Linked DNA regions of Homo sapiens. The protein of the gene in region 2 purifies or fractionates together with the protein of the main gene of each other region. This does not show direct contact. Each region holds a gene or a part of one and is shown on either strand. Other genes may lie near its edges.

Region 1 (7,653 bases), on a different chromosome or scaffold from region 2:
GAAGCCAAGTACTACCTAGTCCAAGGCCTGGTGGAAGAGTGCCAGGCGGCCCTACAAGTAGGCATCACCCTTTCTTCCCATATGGGTGGAGAGGCACCAAGCCTACCTGCCTTCCTCATTTTCCCTCTCTGCAAAATGGGGGCAGTTTCTGTCTGACTGAGATGTTGTGAGAGTTAATGAGTTTGCCCTGGAGCCCGATTCCTTCGGTTGGAGTGACCCCTGAGAGGCCTCCCTGGAACAGCAGGCCACCTAACTACTGTGTCACTCCTTGCAGCCCCATGCTGTTGGATCTTCTCATGTGTACATCTCAACCCTTCAGCAGAGAACCCCGCGGTGTGAAACTTGGTCGGTGTTCGGGACCAATCTTAGGGCTTACTCTAGTCCCACAAGTCATTGTTGGGAGCTCAGCATAATCTCTACAGACAGACACCCCTCACTCCTTAGCTAGACAGAGCAGGACCACTGGAGTCAGGTCTGGTGACAGTAAAATCCCACAAAAACAAAATGCTTCTAGACATGGCCAACACCCCTTTATTTCAAACAAAGTTGCAACGTGGCAGAGCATCAGAAGCATCCCTTTGGGTTTTCGTAGGAATCTGGTCTGTGTGCATGAGGCCCTTGTTTGGGCCTCCCCCACACCACATGTCTGTGTCTGGCCCCGCACCGGACCAGTACCCATAATGCTGCACACCACCTCTACTCTGAGAGTCTGAACTCACTGCAGACCTAACTGAATGTTGCAGCATTTACTTTTTTATTATTACTACACTGTTGAAAGTGATGCACATGCATCCTTCAAGAAGTCAAATAGTGCTGCAAGGTTAACATCAAAACACCACCATACCCCTCCTACTCTCCTTCACCCTTGCAGTAACCTCTGTGAATTCTTTCAGCAGTTTTTTCTGTTCACATTTATGTTTCCACATAATTCGCCTGTGCTGCTCTTTATTGAATTCCCAGTTTTTGACATTATCTACTGGCATGACTATAGAAACTAGAATTTAGCTCACGCACTGCCCCTACCTCTACCCCCACCAAGCTTAGGCATACTTTTCCTTCTCCCATTCTCCCAGTACAGTTCATCACAGTTTTGGTTAAATTCAGAGTTTACGTCATGACGTGTAAATACGGCTGACAGTTAAGCCACAGAGTGTACAGTGATTATTTTCTTTCTTCTATAACTTTAAGTTTGCCAGAGTTAGGGATTGCCTCATTGTTTTGTTCACTTGGTTTTCTAAATATATGTTCCTACTTCAGCCCCACGTTCTCAGCGGTCTCATAGTGGTGTGTTCAGACACATCAGAGGTTCTGTTTCATCTTTGTCTTGGAGACATGCCCCTGGGTCTCGTTTCTGTTAGTCTAAGGTTAGACCTCCAGGACTGACCTCCTAATTCTTTCCTCTTAGTGTCTCTGGCTTTATCCTTTTGTTCTACTTTCTCAGAAGTTTTATTTTTCACCTTTTCAACCCTTCTATCAAAATTTTCATTTCTGCTTCGTCTTTCTAACTTCAGGAGCCTTTTCTTGCTGTCCGAATGCCCTGCTTTCCACAGCGTGCTCATCTTGTTTCCTAGGAGGCCGTATCTGCTCTCAACTGTCTGATGATTCTGTTTGTTTTCTTTCTTCTCCCTTCATTATCTGACTCCTCCTCTTTTCCTGTCTTTGTTTTGGTTTTGTTCTCATGTTAAAGAGGCTTTTCACATGTAATCTGATGATGCTTGGCTGTCTGTTGAAGGAATGAGAGACTCTGAAAGCTGTTTGTGCATGGAAGGTCCTTGTTGTCCACTGGGCTGCATTGTGGGTGATAAGGCAGACTTTTTCAGCGGGACCCCCAACTGTCAGAATCTGTAAGCCATTTTGGGGGAAGCAGGTGGTGTTCCTGAAGAGGAATCCTCTACTCTCCTCCTGCCTGACGGGTCTAGGCCTGGCCGGCTGCCTTTGGGGATCTGGAAGGGGAAGGAGCTGGGGTTGCTCATCACTTAGTGTGATGTTCACTTGTCCCCCCGTTTTCAGAATCGCAGCTCAGCCCTGTCCTCTACCGTGCAAACCACTGCAGGAAGATGGCCCTTTCTTCTGCCTGCATGGGGACGGAGATGGATTTGGGGATCTTTCCAGTGCTTCCGCCCACTGGTTTCAGCTTTCCCCCTCTCCTTGGTTAACGCTCACCTGTGACCTTTCTACCCTCAAATTTTTGACTTTTTTTACTGGTCTGCTGACCTCACTTCTCCCATTCTTTTTCCCCTTATGGGTTTATGCTTTTTTTTTTAATTCCTCTGCAGTCATGGTAGTGGGGTTTTAGGAGCTTTTGATTAAAACACGTTTCTGCTGCCACGTCAAGGGTTTATTTTTGAGTGGCTTCCTGGGCTGTGGAAAATGTGTCATCATTGTTAGTACTTACTCAGCATCCTGGCCTATCATGGTCATAGCCAAAGAGCAGACTTACTGGGAAATTCAACTCCCTGTCTTCCCCCATCTAGTTCACTGGTGGTGAGAATCCTTCTCTCTTCCCAGCCATGACTGCCCCATCTCCCCTCGCCAGAGCCTGTCCAGCCGGTCAACTTTAAAAATGCAGTGCTAGGCAGGCCTCCTAGGCTGAAAGCATGTTTTGTTCCAGCAGAACAAAGATACTTATGAGCCTTTCTGCAAGGTCCCTGTGATCACCTCATCCAAGGAAGAACAAAAACTTATAGCGACTTCAAATAAGGTATGTTGGAGGCACCCTTGTGGAATTTCTTTTGCTACCAGAAATGATGGAGGTTCTTCTGAATAACTTTTGAAATAAAAACATGTATAATTGCCTGAGTGAGGCCTGATAATGGGTTCACAGTGGGAAGCTACAGGTCATCTTTTGTGCCCCTGCTATTGGGTCATGTGGTCCCCCTCTCCAGCCAGCAAGCTATGCTTGTCTGCCTCTTCTGATGCAGGGCAGGGCCCCAGCCCTATGGGAAGCTAGTAGTTCATTGCATCTGCCTGCCAAGTAACTCTCTTCTTCTTCTTTTAAAACAACCCACAGCCAGCCGTGAAGTTGCTCTACAACAGAAGTAACAACAAATACTCATATACCAGGTAAGGCGTCAGCCGGGAAAGACAGCTCCATTTACTAGGAAAACCTCCACTCACACCAGCCAGGCCCAGCTCTTCTTCGTACCTTCAGATGAGGATGACCCCTCTGTACCTCTCTGCCTGGATAGATAAGTAGACAGATGGATACAGGGGTATAACTCTGAGCTATAATTCACACATATCATAAAAGTCATCTTTCTAGAGTGTACAGTTATTATTATATTCACAATATGTGGTTTTTATATATTCACAAGTTGTGAGGCCATAACGACTATCTAATTTTAGAACTTTTTCACTGCCTGAAAAGAAACCCTCTATTCGTTAGCAGTCACTCCCCATTTTCCCTCAACCATTGCTTCCCCAACCCCACAGCCCTAGGTAACCACTAATCTGTTTTCTGTCTTGATGAATTTGCCTGTTCTGGACATTTTTATGTGAATGGAATTGCATAATATATGGCCTTTTGTGACCAGATTCCTTCATTCAGCATAATGAGATTACCTAAGAGGTTTTCAAGGTTTATCCATGTTGTAGCATGAATCAATACTTCATTCCTTTTTATGGCAGAATAATATTCCACAGTGTAGACCACATTTTCTTTACCCATTCATCAGTTGATGGACATTTGGGTTGTTTGCACTTTTTGGCTATTGTGTGTAATGCTGTTATGAACATTCATGCAAAGTCTCTATGTGGACTTACGTTTTCATTTCTCTGGGAACAGAATTGCTGGGTCATGTGGTAATTCTATGTTTAATCATTCGAGGACCTGCCAAACTGTTTTCTAAAGTGGCTGCACCATTTTACATTCCCACCAGCAATATATGCAGGTTTCTAGAATGCCATTTGGCCCTTGAAAACATGTGGCTCTAACTCAGGAACTTGAGGGATGCAGGGAGGATTTAATCAGGTTACTCAAGATCTTTAAAAAGACCTAGGATATAGAGTCTCCCTTGGGCAGTGCCATTCTGCTCCTCTTGGGGCTCGGTGAGGTGCTCTCCTCCACCTGGTGCCTGTGCCCAGAGGCTGTCACTCAAGCACAATGGTTAGGAGCACTCAGGCTTAGGGGCCAGGGCTGTCTTTTGGGGGGCGTGTCTGCCATTTATTAGGTTCAGCCTTGAGCAATTACCTAATTTCTCTGATCCTCACTTTCCTTCTTGAGTGATGGAGATTGGAGTGCCTTTGTCATGGGATTATTGTGAGGTTGAAATGAGGTAGTGGAGAAAGTGGGCTCAGTAGGGCCCTGCGTGTAGAAGGGCCCAGCAAATGATGGCAGTTTTTACCAGCTTGTGGTCACCGTATCAAATGCTCTTTTGCAGCAATTCTGACGACAATATGTTGAAAAACATTGAACTGTTTGATAAGCTGTCTCTGCGCTTTAACGGAAGGGTCCTGTTCATAAAGGATGTTATTGGGGATGAAATCTGCTGCTGGTCCTTTTATGGTCAGGGCCGGAAGATTGCTGAAGTCTGTTGTACCTCCATCGTCTATGCCACTGAGAAGAAACAGACCAAGGTAAGAGCCTCGAGAGGACAGTTTGGAGTGGCTGTTCTGAAACACACACCTATAGAACTTCCTTTCACTTGAGCCCAATACAGAGGGAAATGCTTTTAAAATGCTTTGCTTGCCTTGTGATTGCTCATCCTTAAAATATTTATCTTTTAGGCCCTGCAAGGAGCCAAATGTAGGGTTCATCTGGCATTCCTTTAGCTCCCTACCTTGCTGGCTTCCTTCCAAGCATGCTTGACTCCCTGACTGGGCTGGACTCTGGGGATGTGTTTTTATATCATCCTCTCCAAACCAGTAGGCTTGACCTATCCTTTGACTTCTCCCACCATGCCGTTCCACAAAGCTGGATTGCTCTGCATAGTGCTGCTAGAGATCTGGCCCCCCCTTAATTGAATTTGCCTGCCCTTTTGGGGCTCTGCAATTGGGTTTTCTGTCTTTTTAAACTTTTAATTCACATTATACACTCTGTCATTTCTTTAACGTGTCTAAGGGAATTCTGGCTATCCAGTGACATGCAGCAGGTCTGCTGTGGGCCGACGGTCATGCCTCTTGTCACCCTTGCACAGGAGTCTTAAGAGCCTGAGCCTGTAGGTCACTTACCCAGGTTACTATTGTCCCTGCAGCTTTTGGGGCCACAGTTCTGCATGATTCTGTAGCTGACCTCGAACAAAAAGCAAATGAGAAGAAATCATCACATCACAAAGTAGAAACCAGAGTCTTTTTTTTTTTTAACTTATTATTGAAAATTGAAGCCATACACAGAATTATAGTGTGGTGATTTCCCCTGTGCCATCACGCCACGTCAAGGGCCATCAGCTTGGGCACTCTCACTCAGTCTGTATCTACTCCTCCTCCCCAGCACTCACAGGATGAATTTGACAACATATTTTATTCCTAAGCATTCAAAATCTATCCTAAAAGAATAGATATTGTTCTTAAGGTAGCCAAGAAGTGCTAAACACTGAGGTTCTTTTTGCTTTCAAAGATCCCGGGGGCAGGGGGTGAACCAGAATCATCTGCCTCTCTCTCCACATTGGCAAGACATCATGCCCCTTTTCTCCTGTGAACTGTTTTTTTTTTTTCAGGGCTGTGAATTCTTCCTGTAATTAGACCCCCATTCTGTCATGGTTTGATTTTTTAAAAATATACCTGGGCTGCCTCTGCCCTTGGGTAGTAAGAGGAGAGTCACCATATTGATTAAGCTTTAAAAGATTAAGACTTCTCATTTTTAGAGCTTAATAAGGAACAAGGGGATTTAGAGACCACATGGTCTGATCCCAACTGTTTCTAGATTAGCAGACAGGTTCAGGAGTGGCATGTTCTTGTGTTTGTAAAGCTAGTTAGTGGCAGAGCCAGGATGGGAAGCCAAGGGCCTCTTTCTTTTCTCTTTGTTTTGAGAGAGAGTGTTGCTCTGTCACCCAGGCTTGAGTACAGTGACACAATCATAGCTCAATGCAGCCTTGAACTCCTGGGCTCAAGTGATCCTCCTGCCTCAGCCTCCTGAGTAGCTGGGTCCACAGGTGCATGCTACTACACCTGGCTCATTTTATTTATTTTTGTAGGGACTGGCTTTCACTATGTTGCCCAGGCTGGTCTCGACCTCCTGGCCTCAAGTGGTCCTTCTACCTTGGCCTCCCAAAGTGTTGGGATTACAGGCATGAGCCACTGCACCCAGCCCATATCACTCTCCTCTCCTGTCTCATCTCCACTCTGTTATTGAGCCCTGCTGGTAAGTTGTGTTTTTGTTTGAGGTTGTTGGTTATTGTATTTGTCAGTTCTCAAGTGCTCATTTGGTTTTTCTGTCTCCTTGCTGAGACTCCCTATGTTTCCATTTGCTCTAAGAGCATTGGCCCTTACTTACTGGAACAGGTTAATAATAGCTGCTGCCAGGTCTTTGTCAGGTAATTCCAAAACCTTGTGTCACCTTGGCGCTAGCATCTGTGAGTTATTTCCCACAGGAGTTGAGAATTTCTTGGTTCTTGTGTATTGAGAAATTTTGATTGTATCCTAAACATTTTGAATATTGTTAAAGGACTCCAGGCCTTGTTTAAATCCTAGGGAGAACATTGATGTTTTTGTTTTAGCAGGCAATTGACCCAGTTGGGCTCAGGCTGCAAGCTCTAACCAGCCTTCTGTAGTTTGTAGTTGCGGTGACAGTTTGATTTTCAAAGCCTTCAAATCTGTCCTAGCTGTGTGCCATGCTGTGGCCCGTCTGTCCTGGGCAGTATCTCTTGCAGCATTCAGTTCTTTCAGTCTGCGTATGCAGTTTAGGGGTAGATCTTGCAGCTGGGTGTGGGTCTAGGAGTTCATATACAACTTCACAGGCTGCTTTCTCAAGCTCCTCTTCTCCGCAGTTCTCTAAGCTTCCCTGGAGTCCCCTTCTCTGATCGGCCAGCCAGAAAGCTGGGGGTTTGGTTATTCCCCCTTTGCCACCCACTTTCTGTAACCATGCCTGTATTTTGGGCCCAGGAGCATGAAGATAGAAAAAGCAACCAGATTCTCCCAATCCTGCTGAGACCACAGCTCTTCTCATCAGAAAAGAAGGTTCCTTCCCTCAGAGTTTTGACTCCTGCAGTCTCTGGTTGCTGCCACAGGAATGCTCAGGTCTGGGTGCAAGAAAATAAAGAAAAGGACTGAGCATGGTGGCTCACACCTGTAATCCCGCACTTTGGGAGGCCAAAGCAGAAGGATTGCTTGAGTCCAGGAGTTTAAGACCAGCCTGGGCAACATAGCAACACCCCTGTCTCTACCAAAAATTTTTTAAAAAATAGCTGGGCATGGTGGTGTGTGCCTGTAGTCTAAACTACTTGGGAGGCTGAGGTGGGAGAATCATTTAAGCCCAGTAGTTCAAGACCAGCCTGGGCAACATAGCAACACACTCATCTCTACAAAAAGTTAGTTGGGCATGGTGATGCATGCCTATAGTCTCAACTACTTGGGGAGGCTGAGGTGGGAGAATCATTTGAGCCTAGGCGTTCAAGGCTGCAGTGAGCTATGATTGTGCCACTGCACTCCAGCCTGGGTGACAGAGCAACACTCCCTCTCAAAACAAAAAAGAGAAAAGAAAGAGGCCCTTGGACTCCC
Region 2 (7,653 bases):
TTGTTTCTACTTTAAAATTTTATGTTCTCCTACACTGAGGATCACCCCTAAGAAATTCATTATTGGAAATCTCCATAGGGAATGAACTTATTAACAGAAAACTTTCAAGGAACATCTATCATATGTCGTTTATTATACTAGATGCTGGAGATATAAATAAGAACACCACCAGGCCTGGCATGGTGGCTTCATGCCTGTAATCCTAGCACTTTGGGAGGCTGAGGTGGGAGGACTGCCTGAGCTCAGGAATTTGAGTTCAAGACTGATCAACATGGTGAAGCCTTGTCTCTACTAAAATACAAAAAAATCAGCCCAGTGTGGTGGTATATGCCTGTAGTCTCAGCTACTCAGGAGGCTGAGGCACAAGAATTGCTTGAACCCGGCAGGCAGTGAGCTAAGATCATGCCACTGCACTTCAGCCTGGGCAACAAAGTGAAACTGTCTCAGAAAAAAAAAAAAGAATATCACCTAGTTCCTGCTTTCAAGGAATCTGAGAACACTGACGATACTGTTTATTCTACCAGGTCTTACTCTCAGGATCCAACCGTACTCTCCTGGAACATCAGCTTATTTTTAACTTGTAGACAGTGTAGAGAAGTTCCAGAGCCAACTCTGCCTGCTTCCTCTAGAGAAATTTATAAAACCTTACGCAATACACTTCATTCCAATCTTCACTAGTGTTTCCTTATTTTTTAAAGAAATCTGGGTGTGCTATATTGTAAGGACTTCAGATACTTCTTGGATAAGACAAGAGTAATATAAGTAAAATAGTAACTCGGACAACGCTCTTCTCTCCAGCATAATTTCTGTTTTATAAATACAGCCTAGAGCCATGCTGCTTAACCTCAGAATTATCTGAAGATCTCTTTAAGATAGCACTGTATCAGATCCTTTCTCCAGAGATTCTGACTCCAGTGTCTCTTAAGTGGCCTTAGGTAGGGTGTGCTGTTCACACTCAGAAAAAAAAACCCTACTCACTCTGATCCCCACACTGACAGCAAAGGATGGCTGGCTGAAAATCTCAACAACAGTATTCAGGTAAGTTTGCTCCCCTACTCACTCTGATCCACACACTGACAGCAAAGGATGGCTGGCTGAAAATCTCAACAACAGTATTCAGGTAAGTTTGCTCCCCTACTCACTCTGATCCACACACTGACAGCAAAGGATGGCTGGCTGAAAATCTCAACAACAGTATTCAGGTAAGTTTGCTCCCCTACTCACTCTGATCCACACACTGACAGCAAAGGATGGCTGGCTGAAAATCTCAACAACAGTATGCAGGTAAGTTTGCTCCCCTACTCACTCTGATCCACACACTGACAGCAAAGGATGGCTGGCTGAAAATCTCAACAACAGTATTCAGGTAAGTTTGCTCCCCTACTCACTCTGATCCACACACTGACAGCAAAGGATGGCTGGCTGAAAATCTCAACAACAGTATTCAGGTAAGTTTGCTCCCCTACTCACTCTGTTCCCTACACTGACAGCAAAGGATGGCTGGCTGAAAATCTCAACAACAGTATTCAGGTAAGTTTGCTCCCCTACTCATTCTGATCCACACACTGACAGCAAAGGATGGCTGGCTGAAAATCTCAACAACAGTATTCAGGTAAGTTTGCTCCCCTACTCACTCTGATCCACACACTGACAGCAAAGAATGGCTGGCTGAAAATCTCAACAACAGTATTCAGGTAAGTTTGCTCCCCTACTCATTCTGATCCCCACACTGACAGCAAAGAATGGCTGGCTGAAAATCTCAACAACAGTATTCAGGTAAGTTTGCTCCCCTACTCATTCTGATCCCCACACTGACAGCAAAGAATGGCTGGCTGAAAATCTCAACAACAGTATTCAGGTAAGTTTGCTCCCCTACTCATTCTGATCCCCACACTGACAGCAAAGAATGGCTGGCTGAAAATCTCAACAAAAGTATTCAGGTAAGTTTGCCTTTGCAGTAAGCAGATCTAGGGAAGCAGCATGAAATGAACCAAAAAATACTTTCCCATCATTTATTATCTCAGTAGGGAACGAATGGTGCTGGTGAACTGATACGCATGAATTTCTCGATCACATTTTAGCAGAAGAGGAACAAATACTAATTTGATTAATATAATATGAATTAGTACTCTTAATTGGAATATCACTCAGTAGAAATTGAATTTTATGAGGTCTTATGTTTCAGCTTTAACGAGAAGATTTTGCAGGGAGGAAAAAAATCATTCTGTTGGATTTTATGAACAAGATTTCCTTTTATTATTTCCACTAGTCACTGGTAATACTAGTGAACACCTGAGAGATTAAAATACAGATTTGCTTTGAGATCCTGGAAGTATTATACCAAATTAAATTACTTACTTTGAAAACCATGAGAAGAATCAGAAGAGGATGGCATGGACATTAAAATAAAATTTCCCTATTAATAATAGGGAATAAATGGTTCTAATGAAACATTAGTCTTATTCAATTATGATATGTGAAACTATCCTGCAACAGAGAACAAATTTCTTAATATAATCTCAAAGATAACAGTAATAGAAACCAATCTTTTAAACAACAATCTCACTCTGTAAATTTATGGACTTGGCATGTTCTACTTCTACTAATTCAAACCAAGTGCATATTTCCGTCAAGTCTATGGAGGATACAATGTTTCCTACAGAAGTAGTATTACCACTGCTTTCTAAATAACCCACGCTGAAAGGTAACTATAAAAGTTATCTAGGAATAGGAATTGACCATTTCCATCTCTTCATCTTTTATTCTGGTTCCTCCCAGAAATATATCAACATTCTAAGATTATTTTGCATGGTAAAAACAGACATGAAAATATATGTCCAATACCTAGTACTGCATTTTTTAAAAATTACAAAACACCATGTAAAGTGTATGGTCAGATGTATTGATCATGAAAATGGATGCAGTTATGCACACATGGTCTTTTCACAGAGAAAGAAAAAAGATGACAAATGTAAAATGAGGATGGGGCAAGGCTAGTCCTTAATAGATAGGAATATTAGTTGGAAATATGTATTCGTTTGACTAAGCAGAAATAAAATATGTTAACTCTGAAAATTTGGAGAGATGAGAAACAGACAGGATGAAGAGGAGGAGGATATATAGAACTTAATATTTTGGTATCACAAAATATAGGTGAGCCAAGAATAAAACTGGAGCTTAACCAATGAATGGAGGATTCACCTGTGTCTGGGAGCTTAGGTACCACAACTGCTTATAGTACACTATGCAGCCCCTTCCTCCCACTAATAACAAGAATAGTCACATGTGAATGGAATAAGTAAATGTTAAGGGAACAATAACACAGTAGCTCCATCTTGGGGCAGGTTCTGAGGAGTGATTTGGAAAGAATATGTACAGAATGCAAAGCATGAAATCACAAAGGGACAGAAATGTTTTAAAAATGAAAGGAACTATAATATAGTTACTACACTGTGATTTGAGCTTAGATACCTCTTGACATCTACTAAAAACTACATTGTTGTGGACCCACATAGCTTCACCTGCTCTACGCGGTAGCCTTGTACACGTGGGGGAAAAGTGCAGCCCTACATAATGGTAGAGTTCACCAGCCACTATAATGGTGGTATTCTCCATAGCACTGTAGTATCCAAATGTTGCTGTGATACCATTATCTTTTTAAAAAATGCTGAATTATCTGCCTCTCAGGATCAAAATCAACGACAATTATTTGATCTACATGAAAATAAGTTAAGTATCTGGACAGATTTGTGCATGCCTGCGACAGTCACAATACTACATTGTAGCACTGTAAAACAATCTTCTATTGAAGTAATAATTCCTTCTAAAGTTCAAATGATAATGCTGAAGCCCAACCAGGTAATGCTGCAAGGAAACCTCTGTCTGCGAAAGATGAAATTAAACAAACAAAAGCTGGAACTACTTCCTTAAAACACAAAACATGCAGATCTTGCAAAAAAAAAAAGTTATTCAATAATATCCACTAGCAGTTATAAAAAGAGACAAATGAGTTTGAGGAAAATATATGCGCTTAATTTATAGCTTCTCTGAGAAATAGCATTTTCTATACCAGAAAACATGTTGCCCTAAAACATATTTGCAACTCAGTGAAGAGTAATCTTTTAAGAAAATAAAAAGACAATATATTTTCAATTTTACTAGAAACTATTTTCTTAATTCCTATACAGTGTTTACTTTGACTTATTGATTTCATCAGCTAATAGTTCATTTCAGAATAATGTTTTTAAATATTTATATGTTTATGCATTTATATCTTTGGTTTACAGGTCTATACACTTACTTTTTACCTGTGATATACTAAATAGTTTTGGTCAATTTTCTCTTAATCTTAAGAATTCCGAAAAACATCAAATAGTTATTAATGGTAGTATTTTACTATTGCACAAAGTATATATGAATATACCGGTAGTATTATTTTGGCCAAATTTAAAATTACTACTCTTGATAGCTTTATTGAATTGATACTCTTGATAGCTTTATTGAATTGATACTCTTGATAGCTTTAGTGAATTGGTTTGGGTTTCTTGCTGATTTCACAGCTTTCTCTGCTACTTGCCAAGAAAATTCAAGCCCACCCAACACAGGCAGAGTAGGTAGAGGGAAAGTCAACAGAATTATCTCATTTATCTTGAAAAACATATAAATATATACAGTGGTGTCTGGCAAAAAGGTAAACTAAATTGTTAACTGTGATAATCTGAGTGATGGAATTTGAAATGATTTCTACTGATTTCCTCACACTTTAAGATAGCTAAAACTTTTTAATAATGAGCATATCTTATTATAAAAATAATATTGATAATCAAACACAACTTAATAAAAATGGACAAACCTGTTGTCACAGAAGTCTCTGACTCTCTCAATTTCTGAGACGCTAAAAGCTTTTCCTGCAAAGCTTTCTGGGCAAGTTGTGCATCCCATTCTTCTAGTTCTTTTTCAAATCGTTGGTTGTCTTCCTCAACAAAATCTCTCAAATCCGGTGGTAATGTTTCTATACCAACAAGGGGCTGCCCAGTTTCTTTATTAAACTCCTCTGCAAATCATATTTCAAAAACTAGTATAAAATTAAGAATTAAAGGGAAAATGCAAAGCTCAAAATAGACTGCATTTCAAATAGAATTTAAACTATGAATTATTACCACTCAGCCAATCATATTACTTAAGAATTACTATTGCTTAGCAAATAATTATTATCTACAAAACTTTTTAAAACTCAAACAAATGCTCAGAAAAACAATGATGAAAATATTTGATAATCCATCATAGGTAATGGTCTCAGATTTTTTTTTATCTTAAGAGTAGAAGTGACAGAAAATACAAAGCCAAAGCCAAGTTTTTTGTTGCTGTTGTTGTTTGTTTTTTTGAGACAGAGTGTCATGCTGTCACTCAGGCTGGAGTGCAGTGACACAATCTCGGCTCACTGCAACCTCCGCCTTCCGGGTTCAGACGATTCTCCCGCCTCAGCCTCCCGGGTAGCTGAGACTACAGGTGCCCACCACCAAGCCCGGCTAATTTTTTTGTATTTTTAGTAGAATGGGGTTTCACTGTGTTAGCCAGGATGGTCTCGATCTCCTGACCTCATGATCTGCCCACCTTGGCCTCCCAAAGTGCTGGGATTACAGGCATAAGCCACCGCGCCCGGCCATTTTTTTTTTTCTTTGCTACTCTAACAGTGATGTAATACTACTTCTGCCACTATTGGAAAATACCAGATGTTTGATCACTTAAAAAGTAAAACTTTTCACAAAATGTAAACAACTCATAATCATGTTAACCTTATTAGCTCAAAATAAAATGAAAATTGTTTGTCATATGAAGAAATTAAGTAGACTTAAATATGCAATTATGAAAATTAATATAGCAAGATCTTAAAAACAATAGAGTATTCAGAAGAATTACTGAACTTCTACTACACACACAGAAAAATAACTTCATTTTTTTAGTCAGAAGTGGACTGCCTAGCTGATTCTGAATGACTAAATATAAAAAGATTATTTTTATCAGTTTCAATAAACCTTTATTATTTTCTATATGCAAAGCATATATCAGAATATCAGCATTAAAAAGATTCAGACATAGTATGACATGATCTCTGGCTCTGAGCAGATAAGAGAGAAATGTGCAAGACAAGTCATCACACAGTTCCAATACACAACAGTAAATGCCCAGTAGACAGATGCCAGGACAGCATAAGGAGAGATACTTTTTGGCAGATCAAGAAATAGTTTGCAGGGGAAATGACACCTGAATTGAATCTTGACAGATAAACAAGAATTAGGCAAAAGAATTACTAGCAAAAAATAAAACATATACGAACATGCAAACATAAATGTGTGAAATGGTTTGATATGAGCAGATACAGCAAGAAGTTCAGTAAGGATATAAATTCAAAAGGAACACTGGTGATCAATGAAGGTGGGGAGATAATCAGAGGCCAAGAACAGAGGCCATATATGTTAGGCTAAGGAATTAAATATTAAATGTGAGTCAATCTGTGGAACAGTCACTAAAGCATTTTTAGCAAGGACGAAAAAGGTCATATTTACCTTTAATAGTTGACTTGGAATACAAAATATATACGAATTCTTAGCCCTGACGACATTACTTTTCAATTCAGTCTTGTCAAAACCCAGTAGCATTTCCTAACCACATCCTTCATCGTCTGAGTGAATTACACTTAACTAATCACACCACATACCAGAGCCACTTTTATGACTATTTAAAAATACACACCACCCTATATATTCTTACCTTGTATTAGGAACTGTGCCTTATCATTTATGTACATTAAACAGTATGCACTGGCATTTCTATAACCACCAAAAGAGTCCCTCACTAGCTCTTCCCATGATGATTTTGTCACAGCAATATCATTGTACTTCATCCATCTGCTTTCACGATGATCAAAAATATATGCCCAGTAGTGCCCAGCATTAGCTTGGCCTTCGTGAACTAAAACGGCATGTAATCGATAAGGAACCTAAATGTGAAAAAAAGAAGAGTTAAACTGCAATTATGTAGTTTACTATATACCACATTCCATGAAACCCACAAACAACCTGTTTGGAGAAAACCATAAGAGCATTTTTTTTTTTAAATGAGAGAGAACTGGCTGGGCTTAAAAGTTTGAAAAAAACTAAACTATAAAACTTTAAAAAGACGGAATCTGAATAAGCTAAAGATATGCAAAGTTGATAGATTAAAAAGATGATTTTTGAAAAACTAAAAATGTATTTATTGTGTACATACTCATTGGCCTAATTGTTTATTTGAATAAAAAGCTTATAGTGGGCAGTTTTACATATAGCAAATGTGTCTACATCTTCAGAATTCTAAATTGACGGTTAACAAAATAGATTATATGATATACACCAGAAGTTAAAATGTAATGGAGTCCTTAAGTTTCTTCCCAAATCTTAATATCCTTTAACAACCATAGATTTTCTCCCATAAGACTTTTTAAAGATGCTATAGCCTTTTGAAAAACTTTGGTAGATTTTACTGTAAAATAGTAAGGGTACACAACACATACGGTGTGAAAATACAACTGAATGGGGAAAACTTGTCATGAATTTTGTTATAAATTTGTTATAAAAGTTTCCCCATTCAGATGAACTGTCACATTGTACATAT
Region 3 (7,000 bases), on a different chromosome or scaffold from region 2:
GGCATCCCATTAACACTAACACCTAGAGAGCAGATGTCAGGAATTTAAAGTTTTGGTTATGCTTAGGATATATTATGAAAGCCATGACAAACAGAAATTCAAATACATGAGCAATTTATTCTCAACATGGGACTTTTTAAAAACTAGGGGTGGAGAGAGACTCTTAATCCTAATTTATTAATTCCAGTATCTACAAAGTTATATGATATTTTAAAACTTAACATTTTAAGTGAATTTTCATTTGACTTTCCCCTAGGTATAAAAACAATTATTAATATTTATTGATCTACACAGTGTTCACAATGCTTTAACATGTATTAACTGTCAAATGCTTGCAACTATTATTTATCCACATTCTACAGAGAGACAACTGTGACCCATAGTTCCTCACTATAATGTGTACAATGTCACAATTTCTGTCAGTGACTGATCTTGGATTTGAACCCACTTCCCTAGCTCCAAAGTCCATTCCCATAACCACTTCAAAAACTGGCCTTTGGTCTCTAGGATAAACTAGTGACAGCTTATCTAGCAAATCAAGATCTCATTTTCACTTCTTTCATAGGTTCCATTTTATTTTATTTATTTTTTATTTTTTATTTTTTTTGAGATGGAGTCTCGCTCTGTTGCCCAGGCTGGAGTGCAGTGGTGTCATCTTGGCTCACTGCAAGCTCTGCCTCCTGGGTTCACATCATTCTCCTGCCTCAACCTCCCAATTAGCTGGGGCTACAGGTGCCCACCACCATGTCCGGCTAATTTGTTTTCGTATAAGTAGAGATGGGGTTTCACCATGTTAGCCAGGATGGTCTTGATCTCCTGACCTCGTGATCCGCCCGCCTCGGCCTCCCAAAGAGCTGGGATTACAGGCATGAGCCACCACACCCAGCCTGTAGGTTCCATTTTAATAGAAATTCAACCCAGTAAGTACATACTTGAATGCGTTTTTCATCATCTTCCCTTTTCTTTCTCTCTTCTTCTTCTTGTTTTCTCTTTGCTTCCATCTCAAGTTTCCTAATAAAAAATAGAAAACTCTTCAAAAATTTAACAGAAAATAAAGAATCCTTCAGAAGGCAATTTAACTATTATTTAATAATAAACAAAGGTAACAGATTGGGAATGCAAATTAACCTCCTGGCCACATACATCAACTTATTTTGAATAAAATAAAATTTAACTCTATTGACAATAATTCTTAAATAAAACAAATATAATTATATTCTATAACTTTTAACATCTCTAGATGAATGTGGTTACAAAGCCTGGCTGTAAGGTCCTGATTAAAGGTGCTTCCCTCTAGTCCCTCTCCAAGTCAACAACTCATCTGTTCTCTCTACCCTATCATGGCAATCTTTCAAAATGTTATCAGTTTTAAAACTGCAGAAAAGTAGAAGTGTCATTTATCTAGCTTAGAAAACAATAAACAAATCATAGTTTTAAAAAGAAGAAAATCCTCAGGTGTAAGAGGCTAACAAATTCAGATTATAGTTAAAATTATTTTATGGTATCACTATTATAAAATGACCTTATTCTCTCAATTTTCAAACTTATTACAAAATTAGTTCATTAAAATAAGAACACAGTTTTAAGAATTGTCAACCGAGCACGGTGGCTCACGCCTGTAATCCAAGCGCTTTGGGAGGCCGAGGCGGGTGGATCCCCTGTGGTCAGGAGTTTGAGACCAGCCTGGCCAACATAGTGAAACCCCGTCTCCACTACAAATACAAAAATTAGCCAGGCGTGGTGGTGCGCACCTGTAATCCCAGCTACTCAGGAGGCTGAGGCAGGAAAATCGATTGAACCCGAGAGGCAGAGTGCAGTAAGCCAAGATCGCGCCACTGCACTCCAGCCTGGGCAACAGAGCAAGACCCTGTCACAAAAACAAAACAAAACAAATAATTGTCATTAACCACTGTCAATACCAAGAATTCACTATTTCTTTAAGTCTCTTATTCAAAATAATATAAATGCCTCACATCCGCCTTTCCTCCTCTTCCTTTCTTCGACGTTTTTCGTCTTCTTCACGTCTTTTTCTTTCCTTTTCCATTTCTTCTTGAATACGCCTCAGCCTTTCTGCTTCCTCTTCCTGCTGTTTTTTTTTCTGTAATGCACTGAGGAGTTCCTCTGAGCTTTTAACCAGTGCATCATATTCTTTCTGGATTTGTTCCTGCGTCATCATAGTGGACTTTAAAAAATAAAATAAATAGGTACGTAAAAGCTTATTTCTTCTGTTGCACAACAATGTGAATATACTTAACAATACTGAATTATAAACTGAAAAATGGCTAAGATAAATTTTAATGTTTTTATTGTTTTTTACAATTTAAAATAAAAAACTACTCCAATATGCAAATACAGCAAAAACTAGGTAAGATGGTAAGCAATACGTCCGTTATCTTTACTATACTGTTTGTACATTAAATACTATTCAAAAAATGTTTTATGTTATCTCTGCACACAAGTATTACACATCAATTAGACAGGTAATCTGTGGATAAGGTAATATACTGCAGTTAAAAATTATTTCTAGGCCGGGTGCAGTGGCTCACACCTATAATCCCAGCCCTTTGGGAGGCCAAGGTGGACAGATCACCTGAGGTCAGGAGTTCGAGACCAGCCTGGCCAACATAGTGAAACCCTGTCTCTTATAAAAATAAAATACAAAAATTAGCTGGGCATGGTGGTACACACCTGTAGTCCCAGCTACTCGGGAGGCTGAGGCAGGAGAATTGCTTGAACCCGGGAGGCGGAGGTTACAGTGAACCGAGATCATGCCACTGCACTCCAGACTGGGCAACAGAGCAAGCCTCTTATCTCAAAAAGAATTATTTCTTAAGTAATGATCAGCTAATTTAGCAATAGTTTACTACTATTTTAGAATAATGTTCAAATAGTACCTAGAGAATATTTTAAAAATTACAAAATATATCCAAAATTATTGGATTTCTAAAATTAGCCTTCAAAAAATGTGGGTGGGTTAATTTTAATTTATAATGATACCACATAAACAAAGATGGCCCTTGACAGATTTATAAAATCAGCTGAGTCTATTTATAGCATTTTCATTTTCCTCCAGATCTTTTTTTTCCTTTCTACCTCCAAGATTGCCATTGTTTACATAAAATATCTGCAGAAAATATAAAACGCTCACTTTAAGATATTCATTATATCCCACATACTTGCACTGACCTATGAAACTGAGAAAAAGCATTAAAACTCTAAAATATAATGAGAAGATATGAAATGTAATTAATGAAATATGAAATATAATTAACAAGCATATAGAAAAGTCTTCAACTCCACTAGTAATCAAATAAATAAAAATCAAAACAAAATAAGGGATCCCATTTTTTTCCTACAAAATTGGAGAGGAAATTGCTATTTTCACAAAATTAATTACATTATCGTATCTATGAAGATAATGTATTAACATGGACAAGTATATAACAATGGTAGAGATAGAAATTGAAATGTATATTATGATAAGAACTGTAAAAATGTATGCATAAAAGAGAATGTAAGGTAAAGTAAAAACAAGTAAAATTATACTGTAAAAATAACAGTAACTAACTGAATTTGTTAATGTGGAGGTATTAAGAGGTTTTTGGTGGTTTCTCCAATTTTTTTTTTTTTTTAGCCAGGGGTCTCACTGTCACCCAGGCTGGAGTGCAGTGGTGCAATCTCTGTTCACTGCAACCTCCATCTCCTAGGCTCAAGCAATCCTCTAACCTCAGCTTCCTTGGGACCTCAGGCTCATACCACCATGCCCAAATAATTTTTTGTATTTTTGGTGGAGACAGGTTTTGGCCATGTTGATCAGGTTGGTCTCTAACTCCTGAGCTCAGGTGATCCCTGCGCCTGGGCCTCCCAAAGTGCTGGGATTACAGGTGTGAGCCATCACATCTGGCCTCCAAATTTTTTATAGTATTATATTACTTTTATCATTTATTTATTTATTTTTAGACGTAGTCTCACTCTGTCGCTGAGGCAGGAGTGCAGTGGCACAATCTTGGCTCACTGCAACCTCTGCCTCCTGGGTTCAAGCAATTCTCCTGCCTCAAGTAGCTGGAACTACAGGCGCGTGCGATCACACCTGGCTAACTTTGGTATTTTCAGTAGAGACGGCGATTCACTATGTTGGCTGGGCTGGTCTCAACCTCCTGACCTCAAATAATCCGCCCACCTCGGCCTCCCAAAGTGCTGGGATTACAGGCAGGAGCCACCATGCCCCACCACTTTTATTTTTATTTATTTATTTTTTTTGAGACGGAGTCTTGCTCTGTCACCCAGGCTGGAGTGCAGTGGCGCGATCTCGGCTCACTGCAAGCTCCGCCCCCCCGGTTCACTCCATTCTCCTGCCTCAGCCTCCCAAGTAGCTGGGGCTACAGGTGCCCCCCATCACGCCTGGCTAATTTTTTTTTTTTGTATTTTTAGTAGAGACAAGGTTTCACCATGTTAGCCAGGATGGTCTCAATCTCCTGACCTTGTGATCCGCCTGCCTCGGCCTCCCAAAGTGCTGGGATTACAGGCGTGACCCACCGTGCCCGGCCATTTTCTTTTTGCTCCAACTTTAGTTTTCTTTTTTCATTTTTTTTTTTTTTTGAGATGGAGTCTCACTCTGTCACCAGGCTGGAGTGCAGTGGCACAATCTTGGCTCACTGCAATCTCCGCCTCCCAGGTTCAAGCGATTCTCCTGCCTCAGCCTCCCAAGCAGCTGGAATTACAGGTGCACGCCACCACACCCAGCTAGTTTTGTATTTTTAGTAGAGACAGGGTTTCACCATGTTGGCCATGATGGTCTCGATCTCCTGACCTCATGATCCGTCCGCCTCAGCATCCCAAAGTGCTGGGATTACAGGCATGAGCCACCATGTATGGCCTCCAACTTTTATTTTAATTTCAGGGATGCACGTGCAGGATGTGCAGGTTTGTTACACAGGTAAACGTGTGCCATGGTGGGTTTGATGCACAGATCATCCCATCACCTAGGTATTAAGTTGCGAGGGATATCTTTCTTAGCAACAGAAGAAATGGCATAAAAATTGTCTTCTTTAACTTTTTGCTATGAAATTTTTCAAACATAAAGAGTAGAGGTAATAATGATGAGCATGTACTTGCCATCATTGAGTCTCAACACATTTTGTAATTTTGAAAAACTAAGGACGTTTTCTATACAATTTCAATACCAATAACAAAATATATTAAATTACATAAAAAGTCAAAGTCATTCGGGTTGAAATTACATACCTTAATTTTGGCCATCAAAGTATCAATAGAAATTTCCAGATTCTTGATCTGTTTATTCATCTCGGGTTTTCCATCTTTCAACACACTGACTACCTCATTAAATTTATCAAGTCGTTTTTTCAGTGTGCCCACCTTAACCAGACCATCAATGCTGTAAAAATAATACTTCATTAGAGCTTAATTTCATCCTTTAGTACTTTTGGCAGATTTTTCATTTATAAAATGCTAAACAGGGTATTTCACTTCTGTTTTCAATATTATCTACTATTCTCTTTTTCAGATCTCTTGTTGAAGGCTAAAAAAAATCAAATATGAGTGTGAATGACACTGATGCCTGTCAATGGGATTAAAGCCTTCTACAACTTTGAGAATTCAAATCACAGAGGAAATTAATCTAGTCTCTTTGAAAAGGTGTGATGGATCAATAGAGATATTCAGACTTCCAATTTTTAAAAGTGTAAATTAAAAATGAAAGATTCAAATAAGAAATACACTAATTTATAATGGGACAATGTAATTCCTACAGATAATCTTGAAAATTATGTAAACATATTAGTGAGATGTTTTTTAAAAAATGTCACCTTGACATTATCAAGAAACTCAAATAACTAAAATAATCAGAATAAAAGAGCTTCTCTCAACTACTTACTTCTTGTTTTATAGTCTTTACACATTTTTGTATGCCACTTCAAATCCTTTTATAGAATGAGGCAAGTAATAAGGTAATAAATGAATTAACTAACTTCAAATAAATATTACAAATAAAAGACTAATACATCATTTTACAAAGAACATGAGAAAACCTGAGTATCCAAACTGCTTTTTATTATGACTTTATTGTCATTTTGTATTACAGTAACTAGGTTTTGTAGAGTTCTTTTTAGGAACTATTCATCTTACCGAGGTTTGTGTCTCCTCTTGCAAAGCCACATTCGAATAGTTTTTTGCATTTTAATGCAGGCTTCAGCTCGATATTTTATTTTGTTTTTCACTATGTGTAAGAGTAAAATAAAATGATAGAAAATTATTCAGTTTAAATCTAACATATATTAAAAAAACTCATTTTCACAAAGTAATGCTCAAGAAACATGAAATCTTGACGACCATATTATTATATATCAGACATCAAAAACAAAGTTTTAACACCTTTTTTGTTTGTTTTTGTTTTGACAGTCTCAACCCAGGCTGGAGTGCAATGGCATGATCTTGGCTCATTGCAACCTCCACCTCCCAGGTTCAAGAGATTCTCGGCCGGGCGCGGTGGCTCACGCCTGTAATCCCAGCACTTCGGGAGGCCAAGGCGGGCGGATCGTAGGGTCGGGAGATTGAGACCATCCTGGCTAACACGGTGAAACCCCGTCTCTACTAAAAATACAAAAAATTAGCCAGGCATGGTGGCGGGCGCCTGTAATCCCAGCTATGGGAGGCTGAGGCAGGAGAATGGCGTGAACCCGGGAGGCGGAGCTTGCGGTGAGCTGAGATCGTGCCACTGCACTCCGGCCTGGGTGACACAGCAAGACTCCATCTCAAAAAAAAAAAAAAGAGATTCTCATGCCTCAGCCTCCTGAGTAGGTGAGGTGGGACTACAGGCACACACCATGCTGGGCTAATTTGTGTATTTTTATTCGAGCCAGGGTTTTGCCATGTCGGCCAGGCTGGTCTTGAATTCCTGACCTCAAGTGATCCTCCCACCTCAGCCTCCCAAAGTGCTAGGATTACAGGCGTGAGCCACCACGCCCAGCCAGTTTTAACATTT
Region 4 (7,653 bases), on a different chromosome or scaffold from region 2:
CCAGCCTGGCCAATGTGGTGAAACCCTGTCTCTACTAAAAATACAAAAATTAGCTGGGTGTGATGGCATGTGCCTGTAATCCCAGCTACTAGGGAGGCTGAGGCAGGAGAATCGCTTGAACCCAGGAGGTGGAGGTTACAGTGAGCTGAAATCACACCATTGCACTCCAGCCTGGGCAATAAGAATGAAACTCCATCTCAAAAAAGAAATAAATAAATAAAAACAAAACTGGCCTAAACCCTTATATAATGTCAGTGTTATAAAGACAAGATTGAGGCACTATTCTAGATTAAAGGAGACCAGGCCAGGCGTGGTGGCTCATGCCTGTAATACCAACACTTTGGGAGGCCAAGGTGGGCGGATCACCTGAGGTCAAGAGTTTGAGACCAGCCTGGCCAACATGGTGAAAACCCCGTCTCTACTAAAAATACAAAATTAGCCAGGCATGGTGGTGCATGCCTGTAATCCCAGCTACTTGGGAGGCTGAGGCAGGAGAATTGCTCCCGGAAGACAGAGGTTGCAGTGAGCCGAGATGGTGCCACCGCACTCCTGGGCAACAAGAGTGAAATTCCGTCTCAAAAAAAAAAAAAAAAAGGAGACCAAAAGAAAAAAAGAAAAACTGAATGCACCACATGGCTGGTTTTTTGTTTTGTTTCACTTTGTTCTTGTGTGTTGGATTTTTATTGTTTTTGTTGCTCTAAAGGGTATTCATTGATAAGTCAATTGGGATAATTGATGAAATATGAATAAAGCCTATAGGTTAGCTACAACGATAGTATTTAATGATTGTAAAACAGTTAATAAGAGAATATCCTTGTTTTTAGGAAATGCACATTGAAGGATTGGGTATTATATCTGCAACTTTCTCTTCAACAGTTCAGTGGGGCAAAAGGAGAGAGAGAAGGATAAAACAAATGTGGTAAAATGTTAACATTTGGGAGATGTGGTGAAGGTTATAAAAGAATTCTTTGTACTATTCCAGCAATTTTCCTGTATGTCTAAAATTAGATTAAAATTAAAAACTAGAATAAAAGAGTTAAGCAGGTAATTTATACTTGTTAGGGGTCAGGATAGTGAAAGTTAATATCTGACATGAAGTGCCAAAATATAAACCTAACTGCAATATGTTCTGAAAAGGTTGCCTAAGCCAATTATGTCCTACATACACCTTCTAAAGAATGAGACTTGAAATAAAATGGATCTACTTAGGACCTTACTTGAGGATAAAAGTTAGTAAAGTACCCAAAGGACTGGATTATAAATTAGCAGACTCATCTAAGCCATGCAGCCCAATGTCACTGTACCATATGGAAATTGAAACACGTGCCTTCAGACAGTGGTTGAGGAAGCATTTTTCTTCTAAAAGTTTGGAAAGTGAATTACCTTACCTAGAAATGTTTGGTTCTATTTTAGATTAATTTAAAACCATTAAATATGAATACAATTGTATAAGAATAAATGTATAGAATAGAATAGGATAAAAATGAAAACATTCTGGCTGCATTAGTACTAAAGCTAATGTGATGGATATAAAACTTCAAGGAATCCACAACAAATCTGTAATTTGTGAAAACTTTCCTTAAAATTTAAAAACCACTACCTTTTCTTCAGAGCATTTCCAGAAAATACCATGAATATACAAGTCAGAAAAATTATTGCATGTGCTAAAACAGAGACAATCAACATCAACTGAAGAAATGGCTTCACGGGAAAAAGGATTGATGGTTGTTTGGAAATATGCCCACAAATTATTTGACTCTCCCCTCAAAAAAGGTGGAACCTAACTGCCTTCCTCCCTGAGTATGGGCTAGACTTAGTGCCACGTTATAACAAATCAAATATAGAAGGAGTAACAGTGTTATATTCAAAACAGGACATAAAAGGCACATGGTTTCCTCCTTGCTCTCTCTTGCATCACTTGCTCTGGATGAAGCTAGCTGACATGTTATAAGGATACTCATGCAACCCTATGAAATTTCTGAGGTCCCCTACCAACAGCCAGCAAGGAACTGAGGCCTCCTGTCAACAGCCATGTGAGTGTACCATCTCGGAAGCAGATCCTCCAGCCCCAGCCCCAGCCCCAGTCAAGCCTTCAGATGACTGCTATAGCAATGGTCAAAAGCTTGATTGCAACTCATCAGTGACTCAGCCAGAACTACCCAGCTACGCTGGTTCTGAATTCCTGACCCACAGAAATCATAAGATTAAAAAATGTTTGTTGTTGGCTGGGCACGGTGGCTCACGCCTGTAATCCCAGCACTTTGGGAGGCTAAGGCGGGCAGATCATCTGAGGTCTGGAGTTTGAGACCAGCCTGACCTACATGGAGAAACCCCGTCTCTACTAAAAATACAAAATTAGCCTGGCGTGGTGGCGCATGCCTGTAATCCCAGCTACTCCAGAGGCTGAGGCAGGAGAATGGCTTGAACCCAGGGGGCGGAGGTTGCTGTGAGCCGAGATCGTGCCACTGCACTCCAGCCTGGGCAACAAGAGCAAAACTCCATCTCAAAAAAAAAAGTTTGTTGTCTTAAGCAGCTAAATTTTGGGATAATTTGTTACACAGCAATAGATAACATAGAATTTGATTTAACAGTTATTCCATTTGCAGAATTATAAATTTATAGAAATATTTCTTGTAAAATTAACTGAAATTAACTATCATTTACAAAGATAGTTACAGTCTATATTTCCAGGAATGTATAAAATAGGACCAAAGAGTGACTTAGTCAAACTGCAAGGAATGAAAACCTTGCAAGTCAGAATAACTACACTGAACCATAAATAGAATGTATTAATTTTGTAAATAGGTTTAAAAATAAACACCTAAGTGGAGGAAATAAGTAATGTGCAGAGAAGGGAGATTAGCTGGGAAATCTCAGGTAAACATTGTTTGGGGTGAAGTTTTAAGGGATTTTTTAAAAGAGTTGACTTTACTAAAATGTAAACTTGAAAAATGTAAACTTGAACTGTACTTGAAAAAGTACAGTTCCTCCTCTAGAAAACTTGGCACCTATACATAAAGAAGTGGGGCTGGGTGCAGTGACTCACACCTGTAATCCCAGTACTCTGGGAGGCCAAAGTTGGAGGATCCCTTGAGCCCAGGAGTTCAAGAACAGCCTAGGCAAACAGTGAGACCCTGTCTACATAGAAACAAAAATAAATTAGCCAGGCATGGTGGCATGCACCTGTCATCCCAGCTACTCAGAAGCCTGAGAAGGGAGAATTGCTTGAGCCCAGGAGGTCGAGGTTATAGTGAGCTAGGATCACACCACTATACTCTAGTCTGGGCAAGAGAGCCAGACCCTGTCTCTATTTGAAAAAAATAAAAATAAATAAAAAGTGGGAAATCTGAATATTCATGTAAGATCTCCTGTGAGTCAACTAAAAAATAACTGGGGTCAAATACAGCACGTCTTCATAGGAGAATCAGCACTGGGGCCATTAATTATCCAGCCCCCATTCCCTTCCATCCCTAACTATATTATCAAATTGTCTTCAAACATTTAGGCAGTTACTAAAATTCTAACTTCCTCCAGTAACTTTTCCTAAAACAGTAGAAATGAGACTGCATTTCTACATCAAGATATTAACATGCTGAAGACCCATGGTGACATAAGGAATTGGCATGAAGTAAAAAGAACACAGGCTGCAGAGTCCACACCTGGGTCTGTACTGGAGCCCAGTCCCACTTCTCACTGGCCACAAGCTACAGACAAACAGTTCCCATTCTGGAACTCAGTTACCTTATTAGTAAAATGGAGATAATGTCAAATTGACAAGGTTGTCATTACAAGGATGAAACAGTATATAGAAAGGGCCTTGCATAATGTAGCCATTAGATAAATAGCACCTTGTTTTTAATTACTCTTTTGCTTATATGCATTATGCATATACTTCCCAAATCAAGAAAATAGGGACACAGACTGCCAGAATATTTTTGTGTCTCATATTCAGATGCAAAGGCAGCCCAGGAGGTTAATGTGGACTTATGACATGTTATAATTTCTGAAACATTACAATAGCTTATGAGTTGCTGTTAAAACTGAACACTTAGCTGCTTAAGAAGCCAGAGTACCTAGTCTGTAATCAATATTTATACAGTACTTATCGTATTCTTTTTATTACTCCAAATATGTTCTTTCTCCTCTATCAAATTACAAATTTGATTGCTAAAAAAAAAATATACATCTCTATACGCGTCATGGCCCCATCCCTATACTCGTCATGGCCCCTTGAATACATAAGGCTGAATGAATTTAACTTCAAGTCCTCAATGTCTCTTCCTTCAATATAATCTTAAGATTATAAAAGTCAGGCTCCTTCACCCTGACAATATGCATACATGTGTGCACATTCCTTTCCCCAAGTAAAACCAGAATTAGGTGCACAAGGCAATTATTGTTTTCTCTATGCCCAGCACTTCACACGATTTCTGGCACACTATAAATGCTTAATGAATGTTAGCTGGGAGATAAATGAGAGAGAACAAGCACCTAGGCAGAATAGTGAGTAGCTAAGCTGTCAGTCATGAAGCTCCAATTTAACTCCAATTTCACTCCCTTTACAAATGTGTTTATAATTTTGCACAGCTACTGTTTTATTTCCTTATATAGTGGAACTCCCTTATAACTTCCTCTCACTAGGACTAACATGTGTGCTATATGCCAAAAGTCTTCAGTATATGAAACATGTAAAACCCAAAGAATATTGGCAAGCAAAGAATATGTCCTTAGATTCAGATTCTCTACATCCATGTTTCTGTGATTATACCTCTTCCTGTTTCTTTCCTGTGGGTTTTGCTCATTTCACCCATCTTATCTGTAAACTTCCCAGGAACAGGGAATATATTATTTGCTTCCCTTTTAAGACTCAATGTGCCTAATACAGGACACAGACTGGAATCCTGGCACATATTATTAAAAATTATTTTGCAAACTGGATTGTTCCTTTTTTTTAAAAAAAAAGGGGGGGGAGAGGGCATCTAACACAAAGTCAAATGCACATAGCTACACACCAGATATATGAAAGAAATTTTCTGTAGTTATTTTGTGTGTGTGTAAAATTAGAAATCATATCCTCCCCATGACTCATCAGAGATAAAAGAGGATAAATGAAATCTGTGTGTGAGGTACATGCCATCATGCACCAGGACAGTATTAAGCAGCTTCAAAGGTTATTGCTATGTATCAGGCATTATAATAGATTCTGGAGAAAACAAAAATAAGAATGAGATAAGCTCTACGAAATTGGAAATCAGACTGGTAGACCTAGAGAGTCTGGAGGCTGTTAAAATTCTTATTCTTCTCTAAACTATCTCCTGGTTCTCCATACACTTCAACCACTTTGTTAGTGCTGGTTCCTTTTCTTTCATCTATCCTCTAACAGCACCATCAGCATCACCTGGGAACTTGTTCAAAAATGCAATTTTTCAAGCCCCAGTCCACACCTACTTAATCAGAAACTATGGGGGTGGGACCCAGAAATCTGTGCTTTACCAAAGCCTCCAGCTATTTCTTTTTTTTTTTCTTTTTTGAGATGGAGTCTCGCTCTGTCACCTAGGCCGGAGTGCAGTGGCCTAATCTCGGCTCACTGCAATGTCCACCTCCTGGGTTCAAGCGATTCTCTTGCCTTAACCTCCTGAGTAGCTGGGATTACAGGTGTGCACCACCCCACCCAGCTAATTTTTATATTTTTAGTAGAGATAGGGTTTCACCATGTTGGCCAGGCTAGTCTCAAACTCCTGACCTCAAGTGATCCACCCACCTCAGCCTCCCAAAGTGCTGGAGTTACAGGCATGAGCCACCACACCTGGCCACCTCCAGGTCTACCCAATGCATTTTCAAATTTTAGAACTACTATGGTTTGCATGTGTCCTCCATGTGTTAGAGGAGACATGATTCCCCAATGCAACAGCAGTGAGTGGTGGGATCTTTAGTGATTAGGCCATGAAGACTCTTTTCTCATGAATGAATTAATGCCAGTAGAGTGGGAATAGGTTGACATGATCAGTTCAGCCCCCTTCCCTCTCTCTCTCACCCATGTGATGCCTTCTGCCATGTTATGACACAGCAAGAAGGCCCTCACCAGATACTGGCACATTGATCTGGGACTTCCTAGCCTCCAGAACTATCAGGAAATAAATTTCTGTTCTTTATAAATTAACCAGACTGTTCTTTATAAATTAAACTTAGATCAGTTCTTGTCTTAGTTTGTTTTGTGCTGCCATTATGAAACATAAAATATGAAATAGCAGCACAAAACAAAGACAAGAACTGATCCAAGTTTAAATACTGATTTAAACGTCCAAAAGTTCCATTCACCATCTTTTCCAGTTCTCACTCTCCATTTTTCTGGCATTGGGGCCTCTCCTACTATCTCTACATCTATAACTACTACTAACAATAACAGCAACAGCTGCCATTTATTATATTAAGCATCTATAAGACAGGCATTGTGTTAATCACTGTGCACATAGTACCTTTGTGTTAATCACTGTGCACATGTATAATCTCCACAATTCTTTAATTCAGATAAGAAGCCTAGGCTTAGAGAAGTTAAATAACTTGCCAAAGGTCAGCCAACCAATAAACAGCATAACAGAGATTTGACCTGCCATCTTCCTAACTCCAAAGTCCACTAAGTTAACTACTATACTAACATGCCTCCTAGAAGGTTGCTACTCCCACAGCCTCAGCGGACATCTATATTACAATTGTCCCTAACCATCTCATAAACTCTGAAGTAGCATTTCCAGTTACTTAGTGGATCTCTCTTTTTAAACTCCCCACAGAAACCTCAGAATTAACACTGCCATTATTTCTTCTCTCCACTTCAAACCTGTTCCTCTTCCTGTGATTTCTAACTTAATGTCATCATAAGCAAACAGTTGCTCAAACTAGACATATTATCTTTGACTTCTCACTCTCCCTTACCTCTAGCTGGTCATAAATGTAGAGATTTTAACATCTAAAAATGTCTCCAAAATCTATCCATTCCCATTGTCCAACATTTCTCACCTACACTCTAGTCTCCCTGCCTCTCTACTCTAATGCAATCTGCACACGAACTGTCAACTTTCTGATTATTCTACCTTCTATGGCTCTCCACTGCCAATGGATGGGAGGAGTCTAGACTTTTTAGGATGAAGTGGAAGACCCCCTCATAATTTGGCTCCAAAAACAGCTTCCTGCCTCATCACTTCCCCCATGCAATAAGAAGTGATTAGGCCCTCATGAATGGATGAATGCCATTATAGCAGGAATGGGTTCATTATCTCAGGAATGGGTTCTTGAGATGAGTTCAGCCCTCTCCCCTCTCTTGCCCACAAGAAACAACTCAAGATATTTCCAAAAGCGCTATTTAATTTTAATATTCAGCAACTTTGCTTATGCTGGCCCCTGGAATGCTCTCTTCCACCTCTACATGTGGCGAAATTTTATTTAACCCTCAGAGCTAAGCTCCATCCCCTTCTTCTCAACATGTTCCCTATCAGTTTTTTCTCCAGCCAAAGCACTCTACTCCCCCAGCACATTATTCATTCCAAAAGTGATTAATTTGTCACAGCACATAATGGTTAGTGGTTTATCTCTTCTGATGAACACTTAGTATGCTGAGCATATACTGTGTCTTAACTTCTTTGTCTTCCCAGCACCCAA

Evidence for each region.
Region 1: the proteins of USP25 (region 2) and KCTD10 purify together in Homo sapiens (affinity purification with mass spectrometry; 5 studies listed by BioGRID and IntAct, with this or other methods). This does not show direct contact.
Region 3: the proteins of USP25 (region 2) and MYO6 purify together in Homo sapiens (affinity purification with mass spectrometry; 2 studies listed by BioGRID and IntAct, with this or other methods). This does not show direct contact.
Region 4: the proteins of USP25 (region 2) and BTBD9 purify together in Homo sapiens (affinity purification with mass spectrometry; 4 studies listed by BioGRID and IntAct, with this or other methods). This does not show direct contact.

What each region holds. Positions count from the first base shown.
Region 1 is NC_000012.12:109,453,040-109,460,692, reverse strand, and holds part of KCTD10 (BTB/POZ domain-containing adapter for CUL3-mediated RhoA degradation protein 3), read left to right. Parts: coding exon 1-57; intron 58-2,611; coding exon of another isoform or gene 2,612-2,614; coding exon 2,615-2,701; intron 2,702-3,010; coding exon 3,011-3,063; intron 3,064-4,379; coding exon 4,380-4,575; intron 4,576-7,038; coding exon of another isoform or gene 7,039-7,206; exon of another isoform or gene 7,207-7,653. UniProt on the Homo sapiens protein: Substrate-specific adapter of a BCR (BTB-CUL3-RBX1) E3 ubiquitin-protein ligase complex. The BCR(BACURD3) E3 ubiquitin ligase complex mediates the ubiquitination of target proteins, leading to their degradation by the proteasome.
Region 2 is NC_000021.9:15,830,748-15,838,400, reverse strand, and holds part of USP25 (ubiquitin carboxyl-terminal hydrolase 25), read right to left. Parts: intron 7,001-7,653; coding exon 6,772-7,000; intron 5,075-6,771; coding exon of another isoform or gene 5,061-5,074; exon of another isoform or gene 5,054-5,060; coding exon 4,853-5,053; intron 1-4,852. UniProt on the Homo sapiens protein: Deubiquitinating enzyme that hydrolyzes ubiquitin moieties conjugated to substrates and thus, functions in various biological processes including inflammation and immune response.
Region 3 is NC_000006.12:75,885,239-75,892,238, reverse strand, and holds part of MYO6 (unconventional myosin-VI), read right to left. Parts: intron 6,236-7,000; coding exon 6,145-6,235; intron 5,396-6,144; coding exon 5,245-5,395; intron 2,183-5,244; coding exon 1,974-2,182; intron 1,012-1,973; coding exon 933-1,011; intron 1-932. UniProt on the Homo sapiens protein: Myosins are actin-based motor molecules with ATPase activity. Unconventional myosins serve in intracellular movements. Myosin 6 is a reverse-direction motor protein that moves towards the minus-end of actin filaments.
Region 4 is NC_000006.12:38,629,624-38,637,276, forward strand, and holds part of BTBD9 (BTB/POZ domain-containing protein 9), read right to left. Parts: intron 1-7,653.